Homo sapiens: one gene and its partner. The protein of the gene in region 1 interacts with the protein of each later gene in a biochemical or structural test. Each region holds a gene or a part of one and is shown on either strand. Other genes may lie near its edges. The genes, in order: SAE1 and ETV4.

What was found.
Region 2: of the proteins of SAE1 (region 1) and ETV4, one has a biochemical effect on the other in vitro, tested with the Homo sapiens proteins (one study listed by BioGRID).

What each region holds. Positions count from the first base shown.
Region 1 is NC_000019.10:47,144,447-47,159,972, forward strand, and holds part of SAE1 (SUMO-activating enzyme subunit 1), read left to right. Parts: intron 1-5,755; coding exon 5,756-5,929; intron 5,930-8,451; coding exon 8,452-8,594; intron 8,595-10,667; coding exon 10,668-10,767; intron 10,768-12,223; exon of another isoform or gene 12,224-12,735; intron 12,736-13,949; exon of another isoform or gene 13,950-15,526. UniProt on the Homo sapiens protein: The heterodimer acts as an E1 ligase for SUMO1, SUMO2, SUMO3, and probably SUMO4. It mediates ATP-dependent activation of SUMO proteins followed by formation of a thioester bond between a SUMO protein and a conserved active site cysteine residue on UBA2/SAE2.
Region 2 is NC_000017.11:43,532,572-43,548,097, reverse strand, and holds the start of ETV4 (ETS translocation variant 4), read left to right. Parts: upstream 1-1,757; 5' UTR 1,758-1,913; intron 1,914-2,198; exon of another isoform or gene 2,199-2,318; intron 2,319-2,429; 5' UTR 2,430-2,480; coding exon 2,481-2,540; intron 2,541-2,730; coding exon 2,731-2,824; intron 2,825-3,075; coding exon 3,076-3,123; intron 3,124-3,298; exon of another isoform or gene 3,299-3,936; intron 3,937-11,323; exon of another isoform or gene 11,324-11,618; coding exon 11,619-11,672; coding exon of another isoform or gene 11,673-11,686; intron 11,687-14,112; coding exon 14,113-14,239; intron 14,240-14,749; coding exon 14,750-14,911; intron 14,912-15,158; coding exon 15,159-15,424; intron 15,425-15,526.

The DNA of each region.
Region 1 (15,526 bases):
CCCAGCACTTTGGGAGGCTGAGGCGGGCAGATCATGAGGTCAGGAGATCGAGACCATCCTGGCTAGCACGGTGAAACCCCATCACTACTAAAGACACAAAAAATTAGCAGGGCTTGGTGGCGGGCGCCTGTGGTCCCAGCTACTCGGGAGGCTGAGGCAAGAGAATGGCGTGAACCTGGGAGGCGGAGCTTGCAACGAGCCGAGATCATGCCACTGCACTCCAGCCTTGGCAACAGAGTGAGACTCCGTTTCAACAACAACAACAACAAAAACAAACAAAAACAAACAACACTGGATCAGAGAGAATGTGGGCAGACTGCTTTGTATAGTGCTTGAACCTAACAAGTATCCAGTAATTAGGAATAATGATCTGACATGCTGTTTGTTTGTTTGTGTGTTTTTGCGAGACGAGTCTTGCTGTGATGCCCAGACTGGAGTGCAATGGCGCAATCTCCGCACACTGCAACCTCCGCTTCCCGGGCTCAAGTGATTCTCCTGCCTCAGCCTCTGAAGTAGCTGGGATTACAGGCACGCACCACCACGCCTGGCTAAGTTTTGTTTTGTTTTTTTTTTGAGACGGAGTTTAGCTCTTGTTGCCCAGGCTGGAGTGCAATGGCGTGATCTTGGCTCACTGCAACCTCTGCCTCCCAGGTTCAAGCAATTCTCCTGCCTCAATCTCCCGAGTAGCTGGGATTACAGGCATGCAACACCATGCCTGGCTAATTTAACGTTTTTAGTAGAGACCGGGTTTCTCCATGTTGGTCAAGCTGGTCTTGAACTCCGACCTCAGGTGATCCTCCCACCTCGGCCTCCCAAAGTGCTGGGATTGCAGGCGTGAGCCACCGCACCCGGCCATGCCTGGCTAAGTTTTGTTATTTTTAGTAGAGATGGGGTTTCACCATATTGGCCAGGTTGGTCTCGAACTCCTGACCTCAGGTGATCCGCTGGCCTCGGCCTCCCAAAGTGCGGTGATTACAGGTGTGAGCTACCATCCCCTGCTGACATAATGCTGTTTGATTAATATTATAATGGTAGAGCCCAACTCCAATGTAGCTTTCTCTGACCAGGCTCATCTTCAAGGTGAAAATAAGTGCTGCTCTCTCTACATTCCCATGCCTCAGTGACATTTTATTTATTTTATTTATTTATTTTGAGACAAAGACTTACTCTGTCGCCCAGGCTGGAGTACAGTGACACAACCTCAGCTCACTGCAACCTCTGCCTCCCGGGTTCAAGCACTTCTCCTGCCTCAGCTTCCCTAGTAGCTGGGATTACATAATTACTTCATCTGGTTGTAAGAATCCAACATTGGAGGCCAATCACAGAACAGTGCGATTCTGACACCACAGGTGTGAGGCCACTGCACCCATCTTAGAGCGTATTATGTAGTTTACATTCAACAAGCATCTGAGAGCACCTACTGGGTGCCCTGAAGTCTGCTAGGTGCTGGTGATAGAAAGATGCTCACGGTTTGGTTCCCATTCTCAAGGTTTTTTTTTTTTTTTTTTTCCGGAAACCATAGCAGGCTCCCTGACTGAGGTTGTGGTACATGAAAGATTTCCTGGAGTCCTGATCTGAGCTAAGTCTTAAAGAACAAGGAGGGTTGTCAAGATAAGAGCCTGTGTTTTAGGCAGGGGACATAGCAGTGTCACAAAGGCACCCTACAGTGTGGTAGAAATGGAAGCTAAAAGTAGTTTGGTGTTTTTAGAGTGTGAGACCCAAAGTGGTGGGTAGGGACAGGTTGCTGGTGAAGTCCAAGTCAGGAGGGGCTCCTAGGAAGCCCCACTGTAAGCTTTTACTTAATCCTCTGGGTGGTGCAGACTCACTGAAGAGTTTCAAATGACAGGAAGGGTGACATGGTTAGCTTTGGGCTTTATGTGTAGATCAGTAATTACTGTATAAACTATGGTTGGCACAAAATACAGGGCAGAAGACCACTTAGAAGGCAGTTTTTAGTAGTTTAGGTGAGAGGTGAAAGTGGCCTTGCTGATAGGGATGGCAGGAAGCACACAGATGTGAGAAATAGATTTAGGTGGTAGAATTGGGAGGTCTGTGTATGGGAGCTTAAGGAAAGCCAGGAATAACCAGAGCAGCTGACACTGAAGGGGCTAGGCACTGTTCTCAGAGCTGCAGTTGTATTATCTCATTGAGTCCTCACAACACATCTGAGATCAAGGACCCATTACCATCCCTGTTTTACAGATGGGAAAACTGAGTAAAAGGAAGAAAAGTACTGGCCCATCCAAGGCCCCAGTAGTTAGTGGTACGGCCGGGACCCAGGCATCTGACTCCAGAGCCCATGTTCTCAGCCACCTCACTATGGACCACTCTCATGGAAATAGCAAGGATATGAAGATGAGGCTTCTGGCTTGAGTGACTGGGTGGGTGGCTGGTGGACTCCGGAGACAGCACACAGAAGCAGGCAGACATGTAGGGTTTATGGATATCTGAGAGAAAACGGCTGGTGGGCAGTACAGTAGAGAAGACTCAGGTGGATCAGGAAGAAATCTGCACCAGAAAGAGTGATTTGAAAAATAACAGCAGATTTTGGTAGAAACTGAAAGAGGCATTGAGTTGGTTTATGGAGCTATACAGAGTGGAAAGATAAGTAATTCTGAGATGGAAGCTTGGGGACAGCCACACCTAAGAGGGCCCAAATTGAGACTAGAATGTGTAGCACGAGAGGAGAGCAAAGCAAGGAAGGTGTGATCTGTGGACTGATAGTGATGAAATGATAATTGTATGTGTATGGGTTTTTTTTTTTTTTTTTTTTTTTTTTTTGAGGCAGTCTCACTGTTACCCTTGCCGGAATGCAGTGGGCATGATCATGGCTCACTGTAGCCTTAACTTCCTGGGCTCAGGGTATTCTCCCACTTAAGCCTCCCAGTAGTTGGGACTACAGGTGCACGCCACCACACCTGGCTAATTTTTTGTATTTTTTGTAGAGACTGGGTTTCATGATTGTTGCTCAGGCTGGTCTTGAACTTTCTGGGCTCAATTATATGTTTTTTTTGTTTGTTTTTTTGAGATGGAGTCTCACTTGTCGCCCAGGCCGGAGTGCAGTGGTGAGATCTTGGCTCACTGCAACCTCCGCCTCCTGGGTTCAAGTGATTCTCCTGTCTCAGCCTCCCAAGTAGCTAGGATTACAGGCGTGTGCCACCACACCCGGCTAATTTTTGTATTTTTAGTAGAGATGGGGTTTCACCATGTTGGCTAGGCTGGTCTCGAACTTCTGACCTCAAGTGATCCACCCACCTCAGCCTCCCAAGCTGCTGGGTTTACAGGTGTGAGCCACCGTGCCCAGCCTCAACTGTATTTTTTTTTTTTTTTGAGACAGAGTCTCGCTCTGTTGCCCAGGCTGGAGTGCAGTGGCGCGATCTTGGCTCACTGCAAGCTCTGCCTCCCGGGTTCACACCATTCTCCTGCCTCAGCCTCCCTAGTAGCTGGGACTACAGGCGCCCACCACCACGCCTGGCTAATTTTTTTGTATTTTTTAGTAGAGATGGGGTTTCACCGTATTAGCCAGGATGGTCTCGATCTCCTGACCTCGTGATCTGCCTGCCTTGGCCTCCCAAAGTGCTGGGATTACAGGCGTGAGCCACCACGCGTGGCCCTCAACTGTACGTTTTTATCCATGTCCTCGTTTTATATGGGATTCCCACATTCTTGCTGAGGTTCACACAGTTGTTGAGCCAGGATTTGAATCAAAGATTGAATCCAGCCTGAATTATTTCAGAGCCTTACTGTTAACCATTGTGTGGTACAGCTTCTCAGCACATAATGAGATCCCTGAAGAAGCAGGATGGAATGGGTCAAGGATACAGGGTTAGCCTAGAATGGGAAGTGGGCCAGCTCATTTTCTTGGAGGAGAAGGTAGTAAGATAGAGAGTGTGCTGTGGATGGTTGGTAGGAGGTGTTGAGGGGAGATTACTTCTGTTGTACCTAGTCTTGGTGAAGGTGGCAAGGTTATTTGCAGAGATTAATGGTTAAATTAGATGTTTGATGTGTGAAGAAATACTTTGAGAGCAGTATGGAATCTGTAATCTTACTGGTGGCTATTAGGGGATTATATTATCCTGTCTTTGAGGCTCTGCTCTGCTGATGTTCAGCCTTAGGGGTGAAATAATTCCTCTGTTCCAGTCCCCACTCATCTCTCCACCTCTCTGAGTTCTTTTTTTTTTTTTTTGAGACAGAGTCTCACTCTGTTGCCCAGGCTGGAGTGCAGTGGCACGACCTGGGCTCAATGCAGCGTCTGCCTCCCAGGTTCAAGCGATTCTCCTGCCTCAGCCTCCCGAGTAGCTGGAATTACAGGCGTGTGCCACCACGTCCGGCTAATTTTGTATTTTTAGTAGAGATGGGGTTTCACCATGTTGGTCAGGCTGGTTTTGAACTCTGGACCTCAGGTGATCTGCCTGCCTCGGCCTCCCAAAGTGCTGGGATTACAAGCGTGAGCCACCGCACCTGGCCATAGTCTATCTATGTTTTTTAAAAGTTCATTTCAAGCATTCTTAATTGTGTCTGATTTTTGCACAAGTTTGATTTTTTTTTTAAGTTTTCTCATGAGGTTGCAATTTTTGTTGTTTTTTGAGAGAGGGCCTCTCTGTGTTGTCCAGGCTAGTCTTGAGCTCCTGGCCTCAAGCAGTGATCCTCCTGCTTTGGCGTCCCAAATTGCTGGGATTACAGATGTGAGCTACTGTGCCAGGCTGCACTGGTCTACTTTTTTTTTTTTTTTTTTTTTTTTTGAGACGGAGTCTTGCTCTGTTGCCCAGGCTGGAGTACAGTGGTGCAATCGCAGCTCACTGCAACCTCCGCCTCCCCTGTTGAAGTGATTCTCCTGCCTCAGCCTCCTGGGTAGCTGGGATTACAGGCACACACCACCACACCTGGCTTATTTTTGTATTTTTAGTAGAGATGGCATTTCACCATGTTGGCCAGGTTGGTCTCAAACTCCTGACCTCAGGTGATCCTCCTGCCTCGGCCTCCCAAAGTGCTGGGATTACAGGTGTGAGCCACCGTGCCCTGCCCACACTGGTCTAGTTTTAAACCACTGGAAGACAGAGATTTAATCCTTTAAACTACTTGTGTATTTCCCCAAATGCTTATAGTTGGGCACATGCTAAGTATTTAGTCAATTCTTGCCACTGTTAATCAGTCATTTGTTAGCAGTTACAAATTTGCATAGAAGAAGAAAGCATGGATTTTTTTGTTGACAGTGAATTTTCTTTATAAACACAAGGGGGTGCTCTTTAACCATCAATGACCAGTTTAAAAAAAGTTTAAAGTCATTTTAAAGCCTTAGAAGGAAGCCTGCATAAGGCAAATTGCTACAGGAACAGTAATACATTTTAGGGCTGTGCACAGTGTTTCATGCCTGTAATCTCAGCACTTTGGGAGGCTGAGGCAGGCGGATCACGAGGTCAAGAGATTGAGACCATCCTGGCAAACGTGGTGAAACCCTGTCTCTACTAAAAATACAAAAATTAGCTGTTGTGGTGGTGCGTGCTTGTAGTCCCAGCTACTTGGGAGGCTGAGGCAGGAGGAGAATCATTTGAACCCAGGAGGCGGAGGTTGCAATGAGCCGAGATCATGCCACTGCACTCCAGCCTGGTGACAGAGCAAGACTGTCTCAAAAAAAAAAAAAAAAAAAAATTTAGGTGGTAGGTATTTTAGCTATCCTTTAAAATTTAAAGATTCTTTTTAAGATTTATTTTCCCTAAAAATACAAGACTTAAAAAAATATGTGTATTATTCCTAGGTAACTCCAGAAGATCCCGGAGCTCAGTTCTTGATTCGTACTGGGTCTGTTGGCCGAAATAGGGCTGAAGCCTCTTTGGAGCGAGCTCAGAATCTCAACCCCATGGTGGATGTGAAGGTGGACACTGAGGATATAGAGAAGAAACCAGAGTCATTTTTCACTCAATTCGATGCTGTAAGTTTCTTATTATAAAATCTGCTGTGGGAATTAAACAAATTAAGGTGCTAGTTGTATATACTTTCAAATCCCAAAGCAATCTGAGAGCATTCAAATATCAAATTCTGAGCTTTTTCCCAAGAAAATGTATAAGCTGTTCTATTGTTTAGGCTTAGTATATTGTGTGAATGTGTTGCTAGAGAGGTCCAGTCTGTTGCATCTGCTGTAGTTGTTGGTGACTTGCTGTCTGCTGGCTTCTTCTCTGGGCATATGTTCCCTCAGCCAGGTTTCGTCTTTGGTGTTTTGTCTTCCTTCCAGAATCTTTGCACATAACTTTAATCCATGTTATTGCAAATGTTTTCTTCCGAAAACTTAACAAGTTGGTGATTAATTTCTGTGGCAGCGGCATTTTTTTGTTAGAAATATCAAACTACAGCTTGTGTTTTGTCTTAAGAAAAGCACACCTGATCTTGATCTATGTCTGTCTGTCTGTTTCTCACAGTCACATTGACCATGTTGCCATGGATAACTAGAGAAAAATCACTGTAGTCGTAAGTCAAATGAGGCATATCCAGCCTCATTTAGTTTCACTGCCAAATCTATGCGGAGGTGAAAGGATAAATTCTTTGTCAATATCTGCAACCTTTCAGACATAGTTCCCTGCATTCTGGAAAAGCTTAACAAATCTTGATAAATGTGAAATAGTCATAGATGAGCTACTAGTTTTTTAAATGAAAGGCCCCAGTATGTTACATGAGAGGTTAGAATTTGGGTTGGGTAGTTTTTTTTTTTTGCACCTTTTTTTATTTGAGATGGAGTTTTGCTCTTGTCGCCCAGGCTGGAGTGCAATTGTGCGATCTTGGCTCATGGCAACCTCTGCCTCCTGGGTTCAAGTGATTCTCCTGCCTCAGCCTCCCAAGTAGCTAGGATTACAGGCACTCACCACCATGCTGGGCTAATTTTTTGTATTTTTAGTAGAGATGGGGTTTCACCATGTTGGTCAGGCTGGTCTTGAACCCCTGACCTCAGGTAATCCACCTGCCTCGGCCTCCCAAAGTGGTGGGATTACAGGTGTGAGCCACTGCACCTGGCCTGTTTTTTACACTTTTCTTTCTTTCTTTCTTTCTTTTTTGAGATGGAGTCTCACTCTGTCGCCCAGGCTGGAGTGCAGTGGCATGATCTTGGCTCACTGCAACCTCCGCCTCCCTGGTTTAAGCAGTTTTCTGCCTCAGCCTCCCGTTTTTACACTTTTCTATTTCATATGTGCATCTGTTCAAATATGGGCTTGGAAGGATGGATCATCTGTGCATTTGTCCTGTTTTCTTTTTCCTAGTCCCTTCTATTTTTTAACTTGAGGTATTGGGACACTTTCCATTTGGACATAAGTCTTCATTTTCTTATCTGTAGTAACCACATTTATTTTATGCCAGGTGTCCCTTGAACTTGTAGAGTTAGAGGGTTTGTTAAAACTGAAGTGTGAGGCCAGTTGATTGTGTAATGCGTGTGCATGGGGCCATGTTGACCGCCTTGCAGGCCGTGTTTGGCTGGTCCTTGCAGGTTTTATAGTTACTTTAGACTCTGCAGGGTTCCATTTGATCAATTGGTTGCATGTTCACCTGTGGATTTCTTACTTTTTAGATGGGATTTTTCCTTGGGTGGCTGCATTCTTTGAAACACCAAAGGAACACATTTCTCTGTGAGTGTTATTTCGGTATTCAGGCTGCTAGACAACAGCAAAGAGGGTCTATCAAGTGAAAATGTCCTTTTGTTCAGGAGAAAGCATGTGCAATTTGGAAGTTGTCTTTTGACCATGATCACAAAGCTTCTCCCGAAAAGATGGTATTTTGTGCAGTAGAACTTAGCCATTTCCAATACCTCAACTTACTGGAATACAACCTGGAGGCCCCAGAGCAACACTGATAATTCCACTGAGTGGATCACCAGTTCATTGTCTAAGCCTGAATGGAAGGTCACTTGGTCTGTAACCTTTTCTTTTGTCCTTAAATTCAGATAAAGTTTCACACCGCAATCTGTGGAAAAATGATCTCAACAGGACTTGTTTATCTTCTTTATCTTAACATATCAATCAAAAGGAGGGGGGTAAAAAGCCCTTGTATTTAAACATGACCTTTGGGTCAATTTAAAAAACTGGTTTTGCTTGTCCCTGTAGCTTATTTGGATTTTAATAGATTTAGCAGTATAGAAACAACTTGCTAAGTTATTTTTTTTATGAGAACTATGAAATGTGTATATGTTCGTGGATTACAGAAAACATTTGTTGAATGGCTTTTACTTTTTAGCTAAACACATTTTATTTTGGCTGCAGAACGTGACGGTCTCATAACTTATATTTTCTACACATTGAAACCTGCAACTTTTCTTTTGTCTTCTAGCCATAGGGCCCAAAGAACCTGTTGTACCAGTTTGAAACATGCTTTGAGCATGCCCAGAGAGACTGTTCATTAAGATTTATTTAGACATCAGGGCAGTGATTCACAGTTTGCAAAACTCAAACCCAGCCAATTTCTTTCTTTCTGCAGGTGTGTCTGACTTGCTGCTCCAGGGATGTCATAGTTAAAGTTGACCAGATCTGTCACAAAAATAGCATCAAGTTCTTTACAGGAGATGTTTTTGGCTACCATGGATACACATTTGCCAATCTAGGAGAGCATGAGTTTGTAGAGTAAGTGTTGGGAGAGGAGGGGAGAACATAACATTTTCTCCTTTTTATACTTTTTTTTTTTAAATTATGTATTTATTTATGTGTAGAGACAGGATCTATGCTATGTTGTTCAAGCTGGTCTTGAACTCCTGGGCTCAAGTGATCCTCCCACCTTGGCCTCCCAAAGTGCTGGGATTATAGGCATGATCCACTGCGCCTGGTCTGCTGACATGTTTTCAAGTTGAGAGATAGTAAAATGATTACAAAATAGTTGGGCGATTCTGGAGGCATATTCAACCAAAGTCTACCTTGGAAAAGGTGTCCAATATCCAGAGAGACTCCTCTGGTAGAACAAACAGACCTCATCCTCTCATTTTGAACACTGAGGCTGCAGAACTTGGTAATTCTTACATGACAGGACTTGCCGTGTTTTGACTTTGTAGTCTCTAGGTGAAAGATGGCAGATGATACATTATTGTAAAACTATATGAGTTAGGTATTTTGGCTGCAGTTTCTGACCACCCCCTCCAAAACCCTCCAACTTGCTAATTGAGAGGGAAAGACAGGCTCTGTGAGATAGGAGCTTCCTACCAAGAGACTGAGAACTCTTCTCTTGTTCAGCCTCTCAGGCAAGTCACTGAAATTTCTCTGGTCTCCAAGTTTCTTGCCTGTAAAATCAAGATGGGGGAAGGACAGTCATGTTCCAGACATCTCCTAACTCTAGTGTTTTATGGCTTTAGGATAATCTAGTTCTTTGGGCATATTATTATTATTATTATTTTATTTTTTGAGACGGAGTTTTGCTGTTGTTGCCCAGGCTGGAGTGCAATGGCACCATCTCAGTTCAGAACAATCTCTGCCTCCTGGGTTCAAGCCATTCTCCTGCCTCAGCCTCCGGAGTAGCTGAGATTACAGGCATGCGTCACCATGCCTGGCTAATTTTGTATTTTTAGTAGAGACAGGGTTTTTCCATGTTGGTCAGGCTGGTCTTGAACTCCGGACCTCAGGTGATCCACCCACCTCGGCCTCCCAAAGTGCTGGGATTACACAGGCGTGAGCCACCGCACCCGGCTATTATTATTATTTTTGAGACGGAGTTTTGCTTTTGTCACCCAGGCTGGAGTGCCATGGCACGATCTTGGCTCACTGCAACCTCCACCTCCTGGATTCAAGTGGTTCTCCTGCTTCAGCTTCCTGAGTAGCTGGGACTGCAGGCACCCGCCACCATGCCCGGCAAATTTTTGTATTTTTAGCAGAGACGGGGTTTCACTATGTTGGCTATGCTGGTCTTGAACTCCTGACCTCAGGTGGTCCACCCACCTCAGCTTCACAAAGTACTAGGATTACAGCCACCATGCCTGGCTTCTTTGGGTATATTATAAAGAAGTTATAGTAGTGGGAAGCAATCCAGATTATTTTAACATAAGCTGCCCACAGCAGAGGGGCAGAATTAAGTTTGGCTTTTTTTTTTTTTTTTTTTTTTTTTTTTTTCTGAGACAGACTTTCACTCAGTTGCCCAGGCTGGAGTACAGTGGCGTGATCTCAGCTCATTGCAACCTCCTCCTCCTGGGGTCAACCAATTCTCCTGCCTCAGCCTCCCAAGTAGCTGGGATTACAGGCGCCCACCACCACGCCCGGCTAGTTTTTTGTATTTTTAGTAGAGACGGGGTTTTGCTATGTTGGCCAGGATGGTCTCAAACCCTTGACCTCAGGTGACACGCCCGCCTTGGCCTCCCACAGTGCTGGGATTACAGGCGTGAGCCACTGCACCCAGCCAAGTTTGGCTATTTATTTCATGATTCAAGTAGAGTGTTTACAAAGTAATCACTTTGATTTATTGAGAGCAGCTGTGTGCCCAGCAGTGTGCTGAGCAACTTACGCTGCTCTGTTTTTCCCACAATAATTTCCTGAGTGCCCAACAGTGTACCAGACTCATCATGTTATCAATGGCAGAGCTCGATTTGAACCGAGATCTGACTCCAAAGCTTTTGCCCTTAACCACCATCCCGATCTGTGACCTGGAGAGGCTTTTTTTGATTCCAATAACATGATTCCTAGGGTAAAATTACATTCTCTCCCCTTGTCACCCTCTAGGGAGAAAACTAAAGTTGCCAAAGTTAGCCAAGGAGTAGAAGATGGGCCCGACACCAAGAGAGCAAAACTTGATTCTTCTGAGACAACGATGGTCAAAAAGGTATGTGTAACGTGGGGGCAGAGGTCAGAAACCCTGGGGCCTTGGAGGGGTCAGGCAATGACGATTGAAAAGGATAAGAGCAAGCACTTCTTGAAGGGGTGGGGCGGGTGCTTGTCCCATCTAAAGGGAGGCTGCCACAGCTTAGTGTCAGCCAGCTGTTGCTGTGAGGGAATGTGGGCCCAGTGATTCCAGATGGGATTTTTCAAGACAATGAGAAATGCAAACTTTTGTAGGCTCTGTCCCAAACTTTTTTTTTTGTGTGTGTGAGATGGAATTTTTTCTTGTCGCTCAGGCTGGAGTGCAATGGCATGATCTCGGCTCACTACAGCCTCCACCTCCTGGGTTCAAGCAATTCTCCTGCCTCATCCTCCCAAGTAGCACCCCTGGCTAATTTTTTTTTGTATTTTTAGTAGAGACGGGGTTTCACCATGTTGGCCAGGCTGGTCTCGAACTCCTGACCTCAGGTGATCCACCCGCCTCAGCCTCCCAAAGTGCTGGGATTACAGGCGTGAGCCACCATGCCCGGCCCCATACCCTTTTTTTTTTTTTTTTTGAGATGGAGTCTTGCTGTGTCCAGGCTGGAGTGGCACAATCTCAGCTCACTGCAACCTCCACGTCCCAGGTTCAAGAGATTTTCCTGCCTCAGCCTCCCAAGTAGCTGGGACTACAGGTGTGTGCCACCACACCCAGCTAATTTTTGTATTTTTAGTAGAGACGGGGTTCCACCATGTTGGCCAGGATGGTATTTATCTCTTGACCTCGTGGTCCACCTGCCTCAGCCCCACAAAGTGCTGGGATTACAGGCATGAGCCACCATGCCCGACCAGAAAACTTTTTTTTTTAAAGCAGCAAAACACCAGCCCTGGGTTACAGTAGCAAGACCCCGTGTCTACAAAAAAAATGTAAAAATTTGTCTGGCGTGATGGTGAGCACCTGTAGGCCCAGCTACTCATAGGCTGAGCTGGGAGGATTGTTTGAGCCTGGGAGGTGGAGGCTGCAGTGAGCCATGGTCACACCACTGCACCCCAACCTGGGCCACCTAGCAAGATCCTGTCTAAAAAAAAAAAAAGCAAAACAAAAAATTTTTTGTATTTTCTCTACTAACAATACAAAAATTAGCTGGGCAAGGTGGTGCGTTGCTTGTAGTCCCAGCTACTTGGGAGGCTGAGGCAGGAGAATAGCTTGAACTGGGGAGGCGGATGTTGCAGTGAGCCGAGACGGCAACACTGCACTCCAGCCTGGCGACAGAACGAGACTCTGTCTCCAAAAAAAAAAGTTTTCTTTGCCTGTTTTTTTCCTTTTGCCAAATAACCTTTAATAAGAAAAATCCTTCAATGTTGTCTTGCTGTGTCCAGGCTGGAGTGGCACAATCTCAGCTCACTGCAACCTCCACGTCCCAGGTTCAAGAGATTTTCCTGCCTCAGCCTCCCAAGTAGCTGGGACTACAGGTGTGTGCCACCACACCCAGCTAATTTTTGTATTTTTAGTAGAGATGGGGTTCCACCATGTTGGCCAGGATGGTATGAATCCTCAGATTCATATTTGTTAATGTAGTTTATATTAGGGGCTCAGCCTCTATTTGGATTAGGTGCAATAATTACATTTATAGAAAGGAGTGGAGAAGGGATCAGAAGACGATGGTTTCTGTAGCTAGTGCTGGAATCTGAGATGGGAACCATGCGATGGGGAAAGCAAGATGAAGGGGCCAGAATTGGTTTCATTGAACTGAGAGGAAAGACATGACCAAGCCCATATTTACTCTTTGCTTTGTAGATTTAAATGTTGAGAAAGAAAAACAGCTGGTCAGAATGTTGAGTTAAATTACGCTAACGAGGGGATTCTAAAGAGTGCAGAAACCACAAAAGAGACTGCAGAAAACCACAAAAGTGGAACTCTCAGACTCTCCAGCAAGGCGGCGTTGGAGATTTTCTTTCTCATTTTGTGTTTGTGTTGGAGTAGTTTGGTGCTGTAAGTGTGATACAGAGGAATTAAGCCCTAATTTTAGTGTCTATTCACAGAACCATAATTATCCAGAGTGAACCTTGGTGTTTTGGCCAAAACTTGGGTGCCTTTCTTTCTTTTTGAGGCCCAGTCAAGATTTATCTGAATAGCTCCGTGAATTTGGTGGGGGGAGATAAATTGTTAACAAACGGAGGAGTACAAAAGCTGCTTTGTGGGTGCTGTCAGTTTATAAATCACACCCTCTTACAAGTGTGACACTTGGCCTTGGTGTGAAGGGTTTTATGGCTTAAGGGCCTTCTCTGATTGAGGCAGGTCTTTCACATTCAAATGGAGAGAGTGCCTAGCTTTGTTAGCCATTCACAGCTGGAAGTTTCCCTGGAGTCAGTTCTGATGGTGCCCACTGGGGTGGATCTGGAAACCTCTTTTGGGAACCACTTTATCTCGCTATGAGGAGAATGTGGGCAGCCCAGGCCTTTGCCCACCATTCCGGAGGGCCCTACAGGCACAGAGGTTTTTGTGCAGCCTCTTCCTACGTGGAGCTGAGCTGGAAGGTATCAAAATATTCCCCAGCTGACATTGTTAGTCAGCTGTTACACTTGAACAATGCAGGCTCGGATTCCAACCCCAAGCCCTTAAGGTTACGAGGCATTCAGTGCATTCCTGCTGACAATCCCTGGGATTCCAAACCTTGCCTTTGTGCAGCCTCACCAAGGGCCCTGCGGACCGACTGGGCTGGACTGGGTTTTGGCCATGGCTTTGTCACCTTGCAATAACATGCCTCCTTCCGTTTTGGCACAGATGGCCCTGTGATTTCAAGGTTCTCTTCCAACACCAAAGATTCCTTGATTCAGATGCTGCCCTTTTGCCTAATTGTACAGAATAACTAGTTGGGTTGTGCTCAGAGAGTGCAGGGTGGGGGTGGGGAAGCAGCTACTTCCTGTTTCCTGTGAAAGGTTTTCTGGTTAGGGTTCCCTTCCCCTCCCCGCTTTCCCTAGGTTTAACCAAAGGTTGTAAAGCCACTTTTGCTTCAAGGTACACTTTGTGCTCCTAAATTAGTAACGTTGAAAAACAAAAAGGAAAAACAGCCTGTGGTTTTCACACCCTCTAGGAAGCTGGTGGGCCTTTCTAGCACCTGTGCCATTCTGATAAATAAGGGCTTAGGAAAATGCCTAGCCCAGAAATAGGTGCTCAGTAGTTTGTTTGCTTCCTTTGGTGCTCAGGAGAAGATTTGAGACGGATTTCGTCACAATCAGGTCTCGGGCACAAGCCTCACATGGACACTGACATGCAGGAGCCAGAGGAGACAGCAATGAGGTGGTGGTAAGGAAGTGCCCAAAAAGGTTTCCCAGAGGAAGAGTTGTTTGTGTTGGCATGTGAGGGACAAGCTTTCCAGGCACCAGAGCCAAGAGCAGTGCTCTGTCCGAGGAAGTAGGATAAACCGAAAGACGGACGTAGGGGCAGAGTTGCTGTGGCTGCCCTCACTGCCGCAGCCAGCTCCTTCCATGAGTTGCAGAATGCCTACTGTGTGCAAGGCACTGTGTTGAGTGCAGGGAATCACATCCAGTCTTGTTGTCCCCATCTATAGCTGATAAAGAAGCTATGAGAAATTAAGTGACCTGACCAAGGCCACACAGCTGTGGAAGAAGGGGCGAGAGCATAGACAGTGGGTAAGGGCATAGGCTCACCCTATGATTTACAAAGAGGGATACCCCTGAAGTTGCTAGGGTAACGTGACATATTAGGAGGATGGTGGGATAAAATATGTGAACATCGGGATCATTCTGGAAAACCTTTAGGATAAAAGGCCACTGTCATGCTCCCATGTTCACGTTTCTTTATTGTGAGTTATCTGTGTTAGGTGCTGCCAGAGATGATGAGATGCCTGACAGTGGTTACTCTGTAATAGCTCTTTAAAAATTAAAGACAAAGTAGGGTTTGTTCCTGACTGTACTAGAAATACAGATTTAATTTTACCTCTGCTCCTGAAATAGGTGACTAATTTGGAGTACTATTAATACTCTTTTCATGAATTAGTTGAGAAATTCCACAGTTGAGGAGTGATTCATTCTTTTGACTCCCTCTTTCTGAGCAATTTGTTGACAGCCTTCTCATCCTCTCTTACACCCGTCATTAAAGAAACAGTCGAGTTCTTTTTCTTTCATGTGGTACCTTGGTTTCCACTGCTGGTGGCCCTTAGGTTGCTTGTCTCTGTCTCCCCGCTTCCATTTTAAGCTCCATAGGGGGAAGGTAGTCTTGTTCACTGCTAGACTCCTAGTCCAGTGTGTAGCACAGTCATATCCACGGAATATTTGTTCAGTGTACTGGTGGCTGTTAACTGCAGCATAATCCAGCAACCCTGGAGATTATTTTCTTCCTTTTTTTTTTTTTTTCTTTGAAGCAGGGTCTGACTACTCTGTCACCTAGGCTGAAGTGCAGTGGTTCAAACACTGCTCACTGCAGCCTCCCAAGTAGCTGGAATTACAGACATCCACTACACCTGGCTAATTTTTAATTTTTAAAAATTATTATTATTTCTGAGATGGAGTCTTGCTGTGTCACCCAGGCTGGAGTGCAGTGGCACAATCTCAGCTCACTGCAGCCTCTGCCTCCTGGGTTCAAGCAATTCTCCTGCCTCAGCTTCCGGAGTAGCTGGAACTGCCAGTGTGTGCCACCACACTCGACTGGTTTTTGTATTTTTAGTAGAGACGGTATTTCTCCATATTGGCCAGGCTGGTCTCGAACTCCTGGCCTCAAGTGATCCGCCCACTTTGGCCTCCCAAAGTACTGGGATTATAGG
Region 2 (15,526 bases), on another chromosome or scaffold:
AATTAATTTGGTCTTTATTGTACCTATTCACTACACAAGCATTTCATGCCACCCTCATAAGCATGCTAACAGGCTGAGGAGGACTTTCAGAGGCAAATGAGCTCTGGAGAGCTCTCCATAGATAAGGATGTCTATACCATGAGGCAGGATGAAAAACATCCACACCAGAGATATAGTCAAGAATGTTGTATATGGCTAAAGGAACTGATTCAGGCTATCATGGAAGGCTTCCTGGAGGAGAGGGACAATAGACATGAGCCTTATAGAATATTACAGCACCTATAGAAAGGGAAGTTTACTTCCATTTGCACAAGCAGATCTCATGGAATGAGCCCTTATGAACACTAAACAGCAATTGTATGTTTTAGCCTTAGTTCTGGCCAGACAGGCCCAAAGAGCTTACATGTGTCATTTCCTTCTCTGAAACTCCACTGCCTCATCTGTAAAGTGGCGGGTGTTAGGTTAGATGAATTTGGGAAGCCACTCCTGCTGGCCTGGCATTTGAACATTCTTTTGTGTTTATCACAAACAGGCAGGATAAAAAATCAGGCTGTCCTCAAAGGAGTGCATAGGCTGGAGACATAGAGAATTGTCTCAGCAAAAAGGCCTTTGAGGATTCATGTCCTTTGTGCCCCCATGGCCACAGCCCAAGCACCCCAGGTCCCCTCAGATGTCTGTCTTGGACATAGCTGCTTGCCTGGAACCCAGCACTGTATCTGACACGATAAATGTTTATTGAAAGAAGTGGTGAATGGATGAGATGACAGAGACTATGACCAGCTTCTTAGCTAAAACTGAAACCCATCCTGCCTCCAGATCATCAGAACCTTTGGGGCTTTTGCTCCTTTTGCTGGCTCTCAGATAAGAGGGAAGATGGCTGAGAGGGAGCTACACTTTCGGAAATCATCTACCCTGGGGCTTCTGGTTTCTGCTGCAATCAGTAGAAAGTGGGTCACAAAACAGCTCTGCAGAGAACAGACCCTTGAGGAAAAGCCTGGATTCTGTGCCAGTTTACATTTATTGATCACCTACTGTGTATCAGTTGTCACATAGCTTAACTCATTTAATCATGGCTTCAGAGGGGTGTACAGGAGAGTGTGAGGGATTTGAGGCTGTAAACCCCAGAGGTGCTGACTAGCTGAGTGACCTCAGGAGAGTTACCATCCCTCTCTGAGTTTCATTTTTAATATCTGTAAGATACAAACGATCCATTTCGCCGGGTTATGGGAACGAAATGAGCACGTGGAAGCGGAGCGCTTCATAAATGCTAGTTATTATTGTTCCTCTGGGCACACAAGCCCGGTCGCCTCCCTCCTGGGCGCACACAGACATGTTCATACTCCCACGTACACGCAGATGCAGAGACGTGTGCAGACGCCAGCCGGAGGAGCACGCGGCGCATCAGACCCAAGACCGTGGCGAGACGGTGAAGAAGCCGCGGGGTCCTCGGCTTCTCTCTTTTTCTCTCGGTTCTTTATGAATGAACTCCAGCCGCGAGTTTTATTTTTTTATGAATGGGAGCCGGAGCACTGAATGAAGCCGGGAGCCAACCCCTACATTCTGATTGGCCCCCGCGGCTGGGAAACTCCGCCCCCCGGCCAGGCCGGACGACTCTCCGGATTGGCGGGCGTGCCCAGCCCTGGGGTTCCATTCACAAAAGTCAATGAAACAAAGGGAAACGGGGGGCGGTGTGGCGGGGCGGGGGGTGGAGAGCTGAGGCCGAGCGAAGGAAATGCACCAATCAGCTGCTCCCCCGGGCTCACAACTGTCTGCTGCGCCCGAAAAACAAGTCGGTGCGCTGGGGACCCGGGGCCGGGGCCGCCTTACTCCGGCCTAGCCCCGCGGCCCTCGGTGCGGGCTCCAGGGCATGCTCGGGACCCCCCGCGGCTCCAGCCCAGACGCCCCGGCCTCAGGTGAGGCTGCGGGAGGGAAAGGGAGGGAGAGTGTCTGTGATTCCCCGCCTCGCCTCCAATGCACACCACACTCACTCTCACCACCCGCCTCCGCAGATTCCAGGGCGGGGGTGGGAGGTGCTGGGATTCAGGGTTGGAGGGGGCGCGGGAGTTGTGGGCATGCGATGGTGTGCGCTTCGCCTGCTCCTCCGCGCGCGCGCGCGTACACACACACACACACACACACACACACACACACACACACACACACGTTCTTATGTAACCGAGCCCGGGTAAAGCAGGGCTGCAGAAAGCAGAAACGGCGAGCCCGGCTCCTGGGAGCAGGTGGGACCTCCTTTGGCCTTTGGCGGGAGGGGAGTGGTGGTGGCGCTCGGCCTGGCAGGCGGAAACCTCGCCATCGCCCCAGTGAGTCGGAGAAGTTTCGCCGTCGGACCCAGAGCCTTGGGACTGCCCCCTCCCCGCCCCCATCGCAGCCCTCCCTGGACGGTGTGCGAACGCAGCCCCCTCCCCCACCAGGTCTCGGCCCCCGCTTGGGGCCCCGGCCGTGCGGCCGGAGGGAGCGGCCGGATGGAGCGGAGGATGAAAGCCGGATACTTGGACCAGCAAGTGCCCTACACCTTCAGCAGCGTGAGCGCCGCGCCGGCCTCCACGCCCGCCCCGCCCCGCACCCAGCCCCTACTCTCACCACAGCCCCCCTCCCCGCAGTCCCAGCGGAGTCCTGGGCTGCCCCGCCCCTGAGTCACCCGAGGACCCCAACCTCGTCCCCCAGACTAAGCGCCTCAGGGTGACTCGCGGGCATTCTCCCCGCTTCTCGCAGAAATCGCCCGGAAATGGGAGCTTGCGCGAAGCGCTGATCGGCCCGCTGGGGAAGCTCATGGACCCGGGCTCCCTGCCGCCCCTCGACTCTGAAGGTAAAGAGCAAGAGAGACAAACCGCGACCCTCCTCCGCCACACACACACACACACACACACACACACACACACACACACGGCCGATTCTGGAACCCCCGCCTGTTTCCCCAAAAAACTCGCCCTCCAAGGGATTTTGGTCATTCTTCTCGGTCCCTACTCCCAAGGCAGGGGAGTCACCGGGTCTTGCTAGGGCCCCTTCTCTCTTACCGTCCCCTCCACCTCACCTCCAATTCCACTATTTACCCCTCAGATCTCTTCCAGGATCTAAGTCACTTCCAGGAGACGTGGCTCGCTGAAGGTGAGTAGTTTTGTGACCTTTTCTATTTTGGGAGGCTGGACAGGGGGACACTCCGTAGCCCCTGGTATTCCACCCTAAGCCCTACACTTCTCCTCTCCCTTCCCTGCCTCAAGGAGTTCTCCAAGGCCCTCTCCCCAGGTCCCTTGCCACTCTACTCACCCCAGCACCCAGCGTGGACACTTATATTGATATTTATTTTCTCTACCCTGAGCCAGGCTTGTGTAACTAGGCTTGAGGATGAATCAGACCATTGTGTGGGGTATTTGCTTATTTGAATGGAACTTGGCCCCAGGCCCATTTTCCTGGTTGAAATTTTCATTTGTAAAGTTTGTTTTGCAGAAGCCGCCAGGCCAAGGTGCATGTTGGGGTGTTGTTGGTGGGGGGTGGGGGGAGAAATTAATTTGTCACTCATCCTCCAGAGTTGCCCAAGCATTGATTCTTATCCCCTGGGTTTCTCTTCTTCCCAACCCCCAGCACCAAACAATTTACTGTCCAAGCCAAAAGAACAACAAAAGTTTAAATAATTCTTTTCGGCAGTCCTTTGGCACAGAGAGCCCAGGGCTCCCTCCCCAAATAGCCTTGATTGTAATTCTAATAGCAAGTGTTCCTCCCTCTTCCATCCCGCTTGAATACCTCTGCCTCCAGGCAAATTCCCCCCTTCCTGTGTGCTGGGGAGTTAGCTGTGAGCTGGCTGGGGTGGGGTCCGTGGCTGGGTCCGTGGCTGGGTCTGATGGGGAAGTGGTGTGTTCAGGAGGTTTCCTGGTTGGATTCTTCAGTGCGTTTTGGTGGGGCCTGAGGGTGTCGCTGGTGGGGCTGCAGGTGGGAGGGAAAATGGTGGTTTAGACAGTCTCTGAGAGGGAAGGGTTAACTACCCCCATCTTAGGGTTTATTTTAACACTATGAAAATGAAGAAGCCAAAACACTAGGAACTCCTTTTTTGAGGTCTTTTTGAGGTATTTTCCTTAGGATCTCCTCATCCCTCCACCCTGGGTATCTAATTTTTTTAAAGCTCAAATCCAACTACCCTGGAACTCTCCATAGAAGCTCGGAGTAAAAAGAAAATGACCCCTGACTAGATCCTTGGAGTGAGACTAGGTCTGTCTTGCCCACTATGATATTCTAAAAATATATATGTTGACAGAATGACTATTTAGCATAGAGCAAGCACTCAAGACATTTTGTGGAAATAATGGCTGAATGGCTGTGTGAGTGCTGGAGGGATCTGGAGGTTCTGAGGGTATTGTGTGCATCATCCCCGACCCTGCAAGTCCTGCATGCCCAGCTCCAATTTACAGGCAGAGCTTTGCCCCGTCTCCCCATCCTTCTTCTGAGGTTCTGGAGCTGGGCTAGAGCTGAAGAATGCAGAGGTGTCAGTTTCCGTGGGCTCTCAAAGACTTCCTTTCCCAGTGCCTGATTTCTCTCTGGCTCACCGGGCTTCATTCCTTGCCTGTCAGCTGAGAGTCCCCACAGTGGGCAGCTCCTAGGGCTGTGAGCTAGGGGTGGGCTGAGGTTGGCATTTTGGCAGCAGCTGGTCCATCTGTGCCTGGGTTTGAGATGGGAGGGGGAGGAAAATGCTCTCATCTCTCTACCTTGGAAGTCCCACCCCTTGGCCAGGGGTCTGGAGAGGGTACAAATGTCTGTCTGTGTCAGTGTCGGTGTGACAGCAAGTGTGTGTGTGAGAGAGAGAGAGAGAGAGAGTGTGTGTGTGTTAGTTACATGCTGCTGCCCTGTACATTTAAATCCAGTGGGTGGGGAGGTGGGGTGGGGATTGCAAGGCGGAGGTGAGGGGGGTGGGCGCTGGGATCTCCTTGGTTCCCTCTCCTTCCTTCTGAGGGAGCAGCTCAGGTTCCCAGCTGGTGATGGATGGCCAGGTCTGAGGGGGGGATGCTGAGGCCGATCGCTCCTTCTCACTTTCTCTGCGGAGACAGATGCAGCTGCCGGGGCCCTGTCCCCCTGCACCATCCCAACACCACCCCAGCCTCCTCTCCTGTCTCTTCCCACCAGGTCAGTGACCCCGGCAACCCATGGGGAGCTTTGGGGTGGCAGGGAGGGACTAGCTTCTTTGGAAACTTGCCAGTGGTGGGACGCATTAGGAGGAAAGGGGACCAGAGCCCAACCTCCCTTTCTCAGTTTGGTTTTTTCCAAAGCCCCAATTTGAAGAGAAGCAGCAGGGGGGTCCTGGTAGTGTGGGTGGGTCTGTGAAGACAGCATTTGGAGGAGGCACAGGTTGGAGCCGGGCAGATACAGGAAGATTCCAGTGTGGTTGCAGGTTCAGTGTCCTGCGTCCGGGCGTTGAAGGGTGAGTGTGAGTGCGGCTTTATGGAGGCAGCTCACATATCCTTGGGGTTGGGTTTTTGTACACAGGGGTGAATGATGTGAGGCTAGGAGGGCGTGTCTGATTTGGGGGTGCCTGGGATCTGTTGAGATGTTGGGGAAAGAATCAGGCTGCTACAGGGAGACCCAGGCTCAGGCAGGCTGAGCCCAATATGTGTCTGGCTATGGTAAAAGATATGCTGGTTTTTTGTCCAAGGTTCCTTTCCAGGCTTGTCAGGAGCCCTGAATCCTTGGGGAAAATGACTTTGTTGTCTATTTGGTAGTAAGGGCCATTGACTCTAGGCCATGACCCCTTTGTGTGAGGCTCAGGTCTGTGGATTCCCAGAAGCCCTATGGATAGGTTGCTGGGATCCTTGATCCCTCTGATACTGTGTGTAAAATTGCTGGAAGTGCACCATACATAAAGGTGTATGGATTTTTTTAGGAAGAGAATGACCCATAGCTTTTATCAGATTCTCAAAGGGATCGATCGATCTGCGCTCCCCTTTTCACAGGAATCACTGCTCCCCAACCCTCCTCCAAGGGCTCCAGTCCCTTTGCCCTTTGGCTGTCCCAATCATATTTGTAGGTCAAAAAAAGACCCCATGTGTGGAGGGCATGCATGGAGGGCACATTTCACCCTGTGCTGTCTTGCTGCTGCAAGAGTGAAGTAAAAGGAATTAGGGTGTGTGCATCCCTGAATATGCGTCCGAGTGCATGTACACTGGTGCCTCGGCATGTCTGTGGGGAGGGATGAGGTTAATCTCCTCCCTAATCTTTCCCAGCTACAATGCCTCCTTCTCCATCTTTCTGTCTCTTCCCCTTCCTGAAGACTCTTGGGGACAAATATGTCCCCTCCACAACTAGTGAACTGGTTCCTTCCAGTACAGAGGCTGCCAGGGTGGGGGCAGGGTAAGGGACAGCGGTGACACAATGGAGCAGAAGCTCTGGAGAATGCCTCTACCCCCTTCACCCTATGACTGGATCCTGGGAAGAGGGTGACCGAGCATATGTAGTGTGGGTGGCTAACCTATGGTGAGCTTCAGTGTATCTCTGTTTTAACCTCTCAGTTCTTCCAGAATCCAGCTTGGGAGACCCCCCAAGCCCCTCCTCTTTTTTTACTAACCCCCCTTTTTGAAAGGAGAGTCCCTAAAATTCTTTCTCTCTCTCTGGGCATTATGCTGTCTTGGCACTTTTCCCACCCCCTCCTTAATCATCTGCCTCGTCCCCAGACAGATAAACTCCATCTTAGTACCGGGATGGAGCTGGGGACAGACCCTGGCACACTGGCTTGGCAGCCAAGACTCAGCCAAGTTAACAAATAAATAAAGAGAGTGGTGTACACTTAAGACGAAACATGGTAATTAAAAATTCTCCTGCTCTCCAGGAACGCGAGGCTCAGTGTTCCTGTTTCTATCCTGTTGACAGTCTCTGGATGACTGAGGGCCCTGGCCTACCCCTTTGGGAGAAGGCCAGTGTTTGGGGGAGGGGCTGAGCTAGGACAGATTTCTCCTGGCTCTGGGAAGAGGATGGCACCACCTCTTTTGGGGTGTGGTCTGTGTGCTGGAGGAAGCCTCCTCCTGGATTCCGGGCCTGGAGGGGTCCCTGGTTAAACTGTCAGGCCCGAGGCAGGAAGAAAGGCAAGATGATGCTGAGGGTTCTCTGCTCTCCAGCACCAGTGACGCCAGCAAGAGATACCCCCAGCCCATTACCTCAATGGAAAGTAGCAGTTAATGAGGCCCCAGGGGTGGGGCCGGAATGCGTCAGCCACCCCTGAGTTCTGCACCACCCTTTCCCTTGGGACCCTTCTTGCCTAGTAGGAGGGAGGGAAATGTTGGTCACTCTGCTCCCATCACCCCAGCTTCCTGCCACCTTGGGGGATGTTGCCTCTGAATGGACCAGAGGGCACAGTGGGGAGCCTGGCTTTGCATCCCTGGGCAGGTGGACAGATTTGGCCTCTTACCCTCTATCCAAATGTGCCTATTTTTAAGGTTGTGGTGGCTGAAGTGAAAGGATTACCTGAGCCCAGGAGTTAGAGGCTGCAGTGAGCTCTGATTGTGCCACTGCACTCAAGCCTGACACAGGAGACTTCCTTATAATAGATTTTAAAATGCAGATGCCTGGGCCCCACCCCAGTCCTATGGAATGGGACTCTCCGGAGGAGGGGACTGGGAATCGTGTTTTTATTTTATTTTTATTATTGTTATTTGAGACAGGGTCTCACTCTGTTGCCCAGGCTGGAGTGCATTGGTGCTATCTTGGCTCACTGCAACCTCCACCTCCTGGGTTCAAGCGATTCTCCTGTCTCAGCCTCCAGAGTAGCTGGGATTACAGGCGAGAACCACCATGCCTGGCTAATTTTTGTATTTTTAGTAGAGATGGGGTTTCGCCACATTGGCCAGGCTGGTGTAGAATTCCAGACCTCAGATCGTCTGCCTGCCTCAGCCTCCCAAAGTGCTGGGATTACAGGCGTGAGCCACCACACCTGGCTGTAATCGTGTTTTTAACAACGTCCTGGTGACTCTTGAATCAGGCCAGTTTGGGAATGGTTGTCTTTTTGCCGTGTTTGTGCTCCTGAAAAGATGTGTGCTGGCTGTGTGTTTCTGTTTGTTCTTGCCAGCGGATTTCATGTCTCATTGATGTCTTTGGTCACTTCAGACCAAAGTATTATTATGTTGACTTGTCCTAAGTTCTCGTTTAGCTGCTGGTGGCTTGTGATTGTTAAACTCCCTCTCCCTAATGCTTCTGTCAAGAAATCAACTATCTATTAATATAAGCCTATGTTTATAAACACTTGGCACCTCTGATATTTAAAGCAAATTGTTGAAGAATATTCTTGCCAAGCAACATATCACAACCTAAAATATCCCCTGTGAGATGTGCTTTCCTGGAGAGGACCTGCCTCTAGTGTTGCCTTGTGTGTGGAGAGGGGGAGCCTGCAGGGAAGGGCTAGGATGGTCAGGATCTCTTCAGTGCATGCCCTCAGGCCCACAGTGCTGACTTCTGCCAGCCTGAGGACAAACGATTATTGCATGTTTATTCATGTAGTCAAGAAATAACAGCACTGAGCGTCTACTCTAACCCTGTGCTGGGTGCTGGGGCATCAGATGACAAAAAAGATAAAGCTCTTGCCCTCACAGAGCTTAACTTCCTGGTGGAGGAGATAGGTAGATAACAAACAGGTAAACATAAATTAATATATTCAGGTGGCAATATGTGCCAGGGAGAAAACAAAACATAGATGCAATAGAGAGCCAGGAGGAACCACTTTGGTTTAGGGGTGGTCAGAGAAGGCCTCTCCAGAGATGTCAAAGTGAGCTGAGACTCTGATGGTCAGGAAAAAAAGAAAAAGGCAAGAAAGCATCTGGGGAAGAAGGAACAAGCTCAGCAGCTTTGAGGGCTAGAAAGGAGACCAGAGTGCTGCAGATTCACAGGCAAGGAGAGGCAGGTCAGAGAGGTAGGCAAGGCCAAGTCATGCAGAGCCTTGGAGGCCAAGGGCAAGCGTTTGGATTTCATGCTTTAAATAACAGAGAGAAATGATTTTATTTCTGTTGTAAAAAGATCACTGTGACACCTAGGTGGAGAGCAAGGGACCATAGGAGGTAAGAATGAAAATAGGGTATCCTGGTAAGAGGCCGTGGGTGAAATCCAAGTAAGAAATGATGGAGCCTTAGCCTAGAGAGAAGCAAAAGAGATGGGATATGTATTTGTATAGGCCGGGGGTGTGGAGGTTTTTTCTAGCCATCTCATACCCCTCACCAGCCATTTTGACCTCTCTGGGCATTTTATCAGTTTCCCCATTGTCCAATCTGAGAGCAGTCTCCAGGGAAGGAGAGAGCAGTCTCCAGGGAAGGAGAGTCCAGCCTCCTCGGGCTACAGGTTCCACTGCATCACCCTAGAACCACTCTCTTCCTGGAATAATATCAGGAAGTTCTTCTTGGTGTCTACATTTCCTGCTGTGATCCATTTATTTTTGAGAGAGGGGCAAAAGTGGGCCAAGACTCTGGGATCAAGGGAGATTCTTAGCTGTATAACCACCTGAGAAGCCCCGCTCTGGGGAGGCCAGAATAAGAACTAGAAATCAGAGTTTGATGTTCAGGTTAGAAGCCATGGATGAGCTGCTGCTGTATTTCAGTTTTCCTGCCTATTCCCCAACCCAGCTCCACCCATCCTGGCATCCTGGGAGAGCTCTTCGGATCACCAACCTTGGGAATCCCTCCCCTCCTTAGCTGCACATTAAGGGGATGAGGCACCTATGTACTCAGCCAGTGTCCTTTGCCTTCTGCAGTGGTCCCAGTCACCAGCCTCCTGCTCTCCCACTGTCATCCTCCTTTTTTATTTTATTTATTTATTTTTGAGATGGAGTCTTGCTCTGTCGCCAGGCTGGAGTGCAGTGGTGTGATCTCAGCTCACTGCAACCTCCACCTCCCGGGTTCAAGTTATTCTCCTGTCTCAGCCTCCGGAATAGTTGGGATTACAGGCGTGCCACCACGTCCAGCTAATTTTTTTTTTTTTTTTTTTGAAATGGAGTCTTGCTCTGTCACCCAGGCTGGAGTGCAGTGGCCTGATCTTGGCTCACTACAAGCTCCGCCTCCCAGGTTCACGCCATTCTCTTGCCTCAGGCATACTCCTGCCTCAGGATTAGCTGGGACTACAGGCACCCGCCACCACACCCGGCTAATTTTTTTTGTATTTTTAGTAGAGACAGGGTTTCACTGTGTTAGCCAGGATGGTCCTGATCTCCTGACCTGGTGATCTGCCCGCCTCAGCCTCCCAAAGTGCTGGGATTACAGGCGTGAGCCACCGCGCCCGGCCTAATTTTTGTATTTTTAGTAGAGACAGGATTTCACCATGCTGGTCAGGCTGGTCTCAAACTCCTGACCTCGTGATCCGCCCACCACGGCCTCCCAAAGTGCTGGGATTACAGGCATGAGCCACCATGCCCGGCCTTTATTTTTCATTTTTTGGAACAGAGTCTCACTTTGTCACCCAGGCTGGAGTGCAGTGGCATGATCTCAGCTGACTGCAACCTCTGCCTCCTGGGTTCAAGCAATTCTCCTGCCTCAGCCTTCCGAGTAGCTGGGATTACAGGTGCCCACCGCCACGCCTGACTAATTTTTTAATTTTTTAGTAGAGATGGGAGTTTCACTTTGTTGGCCAGGCTGGTCTCAAACTCCTGATCTCAAGTGATCCTCCCACCTCAGCCTCCCAAAGTGCTGGGATTACAGGCATGAACCACTGCGCCCAGCCACCCCCCTATGTGATTTTATTTATTATTTAATTTTATTTTTCTTTTGAGATGGAGTTTCACTCTTGTTGCCCAGGCTGGAGTGCAGTGGTGCGATCTCAGCTCACTGCAACCTCTGCCTCCCAGGTTCAAGCGATTCTTCTGTCTCAGCTCCTGAGTAGCTGGGATTATAGGCTCCCGCCAACACGACCAGCTAAGTTTTGTACTTTTAGTAAAGATGGGGTTTCGTCATGTTGGCCAGGCTGGTCTCGAACTCCGGACCTCAGGTGATCCACCCGCCTTGACTTCCCAAAGTGCTGGGATTATAGGCGTGAGCCACCATGCCTGGCCGCCTCCTATGTGATTTTTAAATCCACAGGATCCCACTGCTTATAATGCCTGCCCATCCTAGATATGACTGTTGTGAGCTTTAAGGGAGTTTTGTAAACTCTGAGGGGCGAGGCTGTTTCACTTCAGAAAAATGGAGGAAATAAAGACAAAGCATCTAGAAGAAGAAAGACTGGAATCTGCTCAGACAGGTTCTGAGAACAGTCTTCCCTCCTGGGTCTTAGTGGAGCCCAGAGGTGGAAGACACTAGGACCTAGGGTGGAGCAGCCTTTAGTCTCAAGCAAGCTTGTCCAACCCGTGGGCCTGTGGGCCACTTTCAGCCCAGGGTAGCTTTGAATGCGGCCCAGGCCCAACATAAATTCCTTGTAAAATTTCTTAAAACATTATGAGATTTGTTTGTGATTTTAAGTTCATCAGCTATCGTTAGTGTTAGTGTATTTGTGTATTTTATGTGTGGCCCAAGACAATTCTTACAATGTGGACACCCCTGATCTAAAGGCTGTTGGTCCTTTCTTGGCTGTTGCTAATCTGCAGGGCTGTAATAATGGAGCCTCCCAGGGGACAACCAGGGCTCCGCCCCAAACTCACCTCTGACTTCTCTCTGCAGCTCAGGTACCAGACAGTGATGAGCAGTTTGTTCCTGATTTCCATTCAGAAAACCGTGAGTAGAGGTCCCTGGGGAGAGGGTATAGGGAGTGGAGGATGGCAGGAAGTGAGTCATAGGATAGAGAATCACAAGAGAGCAGCTTGTTCTCTCCTAAAACACAGTGGGGTTTGATCTTAAAGACCAAGGCAATAACTGGAATGAAAACCTTGGTTGAAATCTGGGGCTTGACATGTTCTTGCTGTGTGACCTTAGAGCAGACACTATCCCTCTGGTTCTCCATTGCCTTATATCTGAAGTGAGGGGCCTGGGCCAGTTCAGCAGAGTCCAGTTCTAGTGTTGTTTGTTTGTTTGTTTGTTTGTTTTCCCCCCAAGACAGAGTCTTGCTCTGTCACCCAGGCTGGAGTGCAGTGGCACAATCTCGGCTCACTGCAACTTCCGCCTCCCGGGTTTAAGCCATTCTCCTGCCTCAGCTTCCAGAGTAGCTGGGATTACAGGCATGCACAACCACACCCAGCTAATTTTTGTATTTTTAGTAGAGATGGGGTTTCACCATGTTGGCCAGGATGGTCTCGAATTCCTGACCTTGTGATCCGCCCACCTCGGCCTCCCATAGTGTTGGGACTACAGGCGTGAGCCCAGTGCGCCCGCCCCCAGTTCTAGTATTCTAAGTCACTTCCATAAACTGGGGACAATTTTGCCTCCCAAGAGACATTTGGTAATATCTGTAGACATTTTTGGTTGTCACAGTTGAGGGTGGGGTGCTACTGGTGTCTAGTGGATAGAGAGGCCAGGGATACTGCTAAAAGCATCCTATGATGCTCAGGACCGCTCCTTACAATATTATTAATAAAACACTATCTGGCCCACAGGTCAGTAGTGCCACTGTTGAGAAACCCTGCTTTAGGCTGGGTGTGGTGGCTCACGCCTGTAATCCCAGCACTTTGGGAGGCTGAGGCGCGTGGATCACATGAGGTCAGGAGTTTGAGACCAACCTGGCCAACATGATGAAATTCCGTCTTTACTAAAATACAAAAATTAGCCGGGCATGGTGGCGTGTACCTGTAATCCCAGCTACTCAGGAGGCTGAGGCATGAGAATCGCTTGAACCTGGGAGGCGGAGGTTGCAGTGAGGCAAGATTGAGCCACTGCACTCCAGCCTGGGTGACAGAGCGAGGCTCCATCTCAAAAAAAACAAAAACCAAAAAACAAACCCTGCTTTAATGTCAGATACTTTGCTGTCAACTGTCTTCACCAGTGAAACAATGGGGCACAAAGAATCAAAAACAGCAGAGAATAGTTGGTTACAAACGGCATTTGACTGGACTGCGGTTAAAACTGAATCTCACACCGGCTTGGAACCAACTCTTTGCTGCTCAGCCTCGTGGCCAGAGTTTGGGAACCCCGCAGGGGCCACAGGAAAGGCCAGTGTTCTTCACAGATAAGTAGGAGCATGTGTATAATGTTAGTCAGCTGACATTCAAGTGGGCCAATATCCAACCTCAACCAGAAAAAGAAAGATTCTTTTATTTATTTATTTAGAGACAGAGTTTCACTCTTGTTGCCCAGGCTGGAGTGCAATGGTGTGATCTCGGCTCACTGCAACCGCTGCCTCCCAGGTTCAAGCAATTCTCCTGCCTCAGCCTCCCGAGTAGCTGGGATTAAAGGGATGTGCCACCACGCCCGGCTAATTTTTTTGTATTTTAGTAGAGATGGGGTTTCTCTATGTTGGTCAGGCTGGTCTTGAACTTCTGACTTCAGGTGATCCGCCCGCCTCGGCCTCCCAAAGTGCTGGGATTACAGGCGTGAGCCACCGCGCCCGGCCAAGAAAGATTCTTTATATCCTCAAATAAGAAAACATGTCACTCCCCTGGAATTTTCCAGGGCACTCAGGAAAACTACAGGCCCTAGGTTGGAGGTGCTCACTCCTTGAAAGTGTTTTCTGGGGCCTGGGGTTGCATTAAATGTTTTTGTTTTTTGTTTCTTTTTGAGACGGAGTCTCGCTCTGTCACCCAGGCTGGAGTGCAGTGGCATGATCTCGGCTCACTGCAATCCCCGCCTCCTGGGTTCAAGCAATTCCCTTGCCCCAGCCTCCTGAGTAGCTGGGACTACAGGCATCCGCCACCATCCCCGGCTAATTTTTTTTTGTATTTTTAGTAGAGACAGGGTTTCACCATGTTGGCCAGGCTGGTCTTGGACTCCTGCCTCCCAAAGTGCTGGGATTACAGGTGTGAGCTACCGTGCCCAGCCTAAATGTTGAACTTTAGATGGTTTATTTAGTCAATAATCAGACACTAGTCTGATGTATAAACTAGACATAATGTAAATAGCCAAAATGTTCTTGTCTCACTGCGGGTCTCAGAAAATTGATACCCAGAGAGGGAAGGAGGCTGTACCAGTCACCCAGCTGGTCCTCAAAGCTCAGAAGGTATCAGAAGCCCTGCCTGCCTCTTGTGTGACAGGCTCTGGCCTTGCTCTGTCCCCTCCACCCCCACAGTAGCTTTCCACAGCCCCACCACCAGGATCAAGAAGGAGCCCCAGAGTCCCCGCACAGACCCGGCCCTGTCCTGCAGCAGGAAGCCGCCACTCCCCTACCACCATGGCGAGCAGTGCCTTTACTCCAGGTGAGCCCCAGCCTGGACCTGGTGAAGGGTAGGAGAAGGGTTCCAGAGGAGGGAGGCAGGGGGCACCCATGAGCAGAGGCAGCAGCTGAGATGCAAGTTAGACAACAGAAAGGATTTTCTAGCACTTGTAAGGAAGCAATACAGCTAAGGATTTCCTCTGAATAGACGGAAAACGCAGCAGAGGGCCTCAGGAATATATACTGAGGCCAGAGCAGATTCTGTTTCCACCAAGAGGCCCACTGTCCCACCTAAACCATTGCTCTGAGCAACAAATCCCCCCTGTATGAATCCCAGGGGTTCAAGACTAGCCTGGGCAACAGAGGGAGACTGTCTCTGAAAAAGAAAAGAATTGGCTAGGGCTGAGTCTGTGGCTCCTGCCGTTCCCTTCTCAGCCCCCTCTATCCTTCCTTCTCCTGTAATCCCTGTGACCTCGCTTTCCTAGGAATGAAGGGTTCAAAGATGCTTTCCAGCTTCTCTGCCCCCTCACCCCTGTCTCCTTCTCAACTCCAGTGCCTATGACCCCCCCAGACAAATCGCCATCAAGTCCCCTGCCCCTGGTGCCCTTGGACAGTCGCCCCTACAGCCCTTTCCCCGGGCAGAGCAACGGAATTTCCTGAGATCCTCTGGCACCTCCCAGCCCCACCCTGGCCATGGGTACCTCGGGGAACATAGGTAAGGAGACAGGGAAACCCACTGCTCATGGGCCCAGGTGTTTTTTCAATTCCTGAGTGTTCTCCATAAAGACTTGAGCTGTGGGGTGGTAGAGGCAGGGGGCAGTGGAATAGAAAGGGAGAAATACTGACACCCCAACCCCCTACCCCCCATTCCGGAGCCCACTCTAAAAGCCTAGGAGTAACAGGCTCGAGGAAGGATTAATTTAAAGTTCTCTTCTCTTCCTTCTCCATCCAACCACATCCAGCTCCGTCTTCCAGCAGCCCCTGGACATTTGCCACTCCTTCACATCTCAGGGAGGGGGCCGGGAACCCCTCCCAGCCCCCTACCAACACCAGCTGTCGGAGCCCTGCCCACCCTATCCCCAGCAGAGCTTTAAGCAAGAATACCATGATCCCCTGTATGAACAGGCGGGCCAGCCAGCCGTGGACCAGGGTGGGGTCAATGGGCACAGGTACCCAGGGGCGGGGGTGGTGATCAAACAGGAACAGACGGACTTCGCCTACGACTCAGGTAAGAGACTGGGGTGGGGCAGGGTGGCATGTGATCAAGTGTTCAGTTAAGCCCAGAATGTCTCCCGAGTTTTTTTACATTGCTGTTTACCATTTCATACAT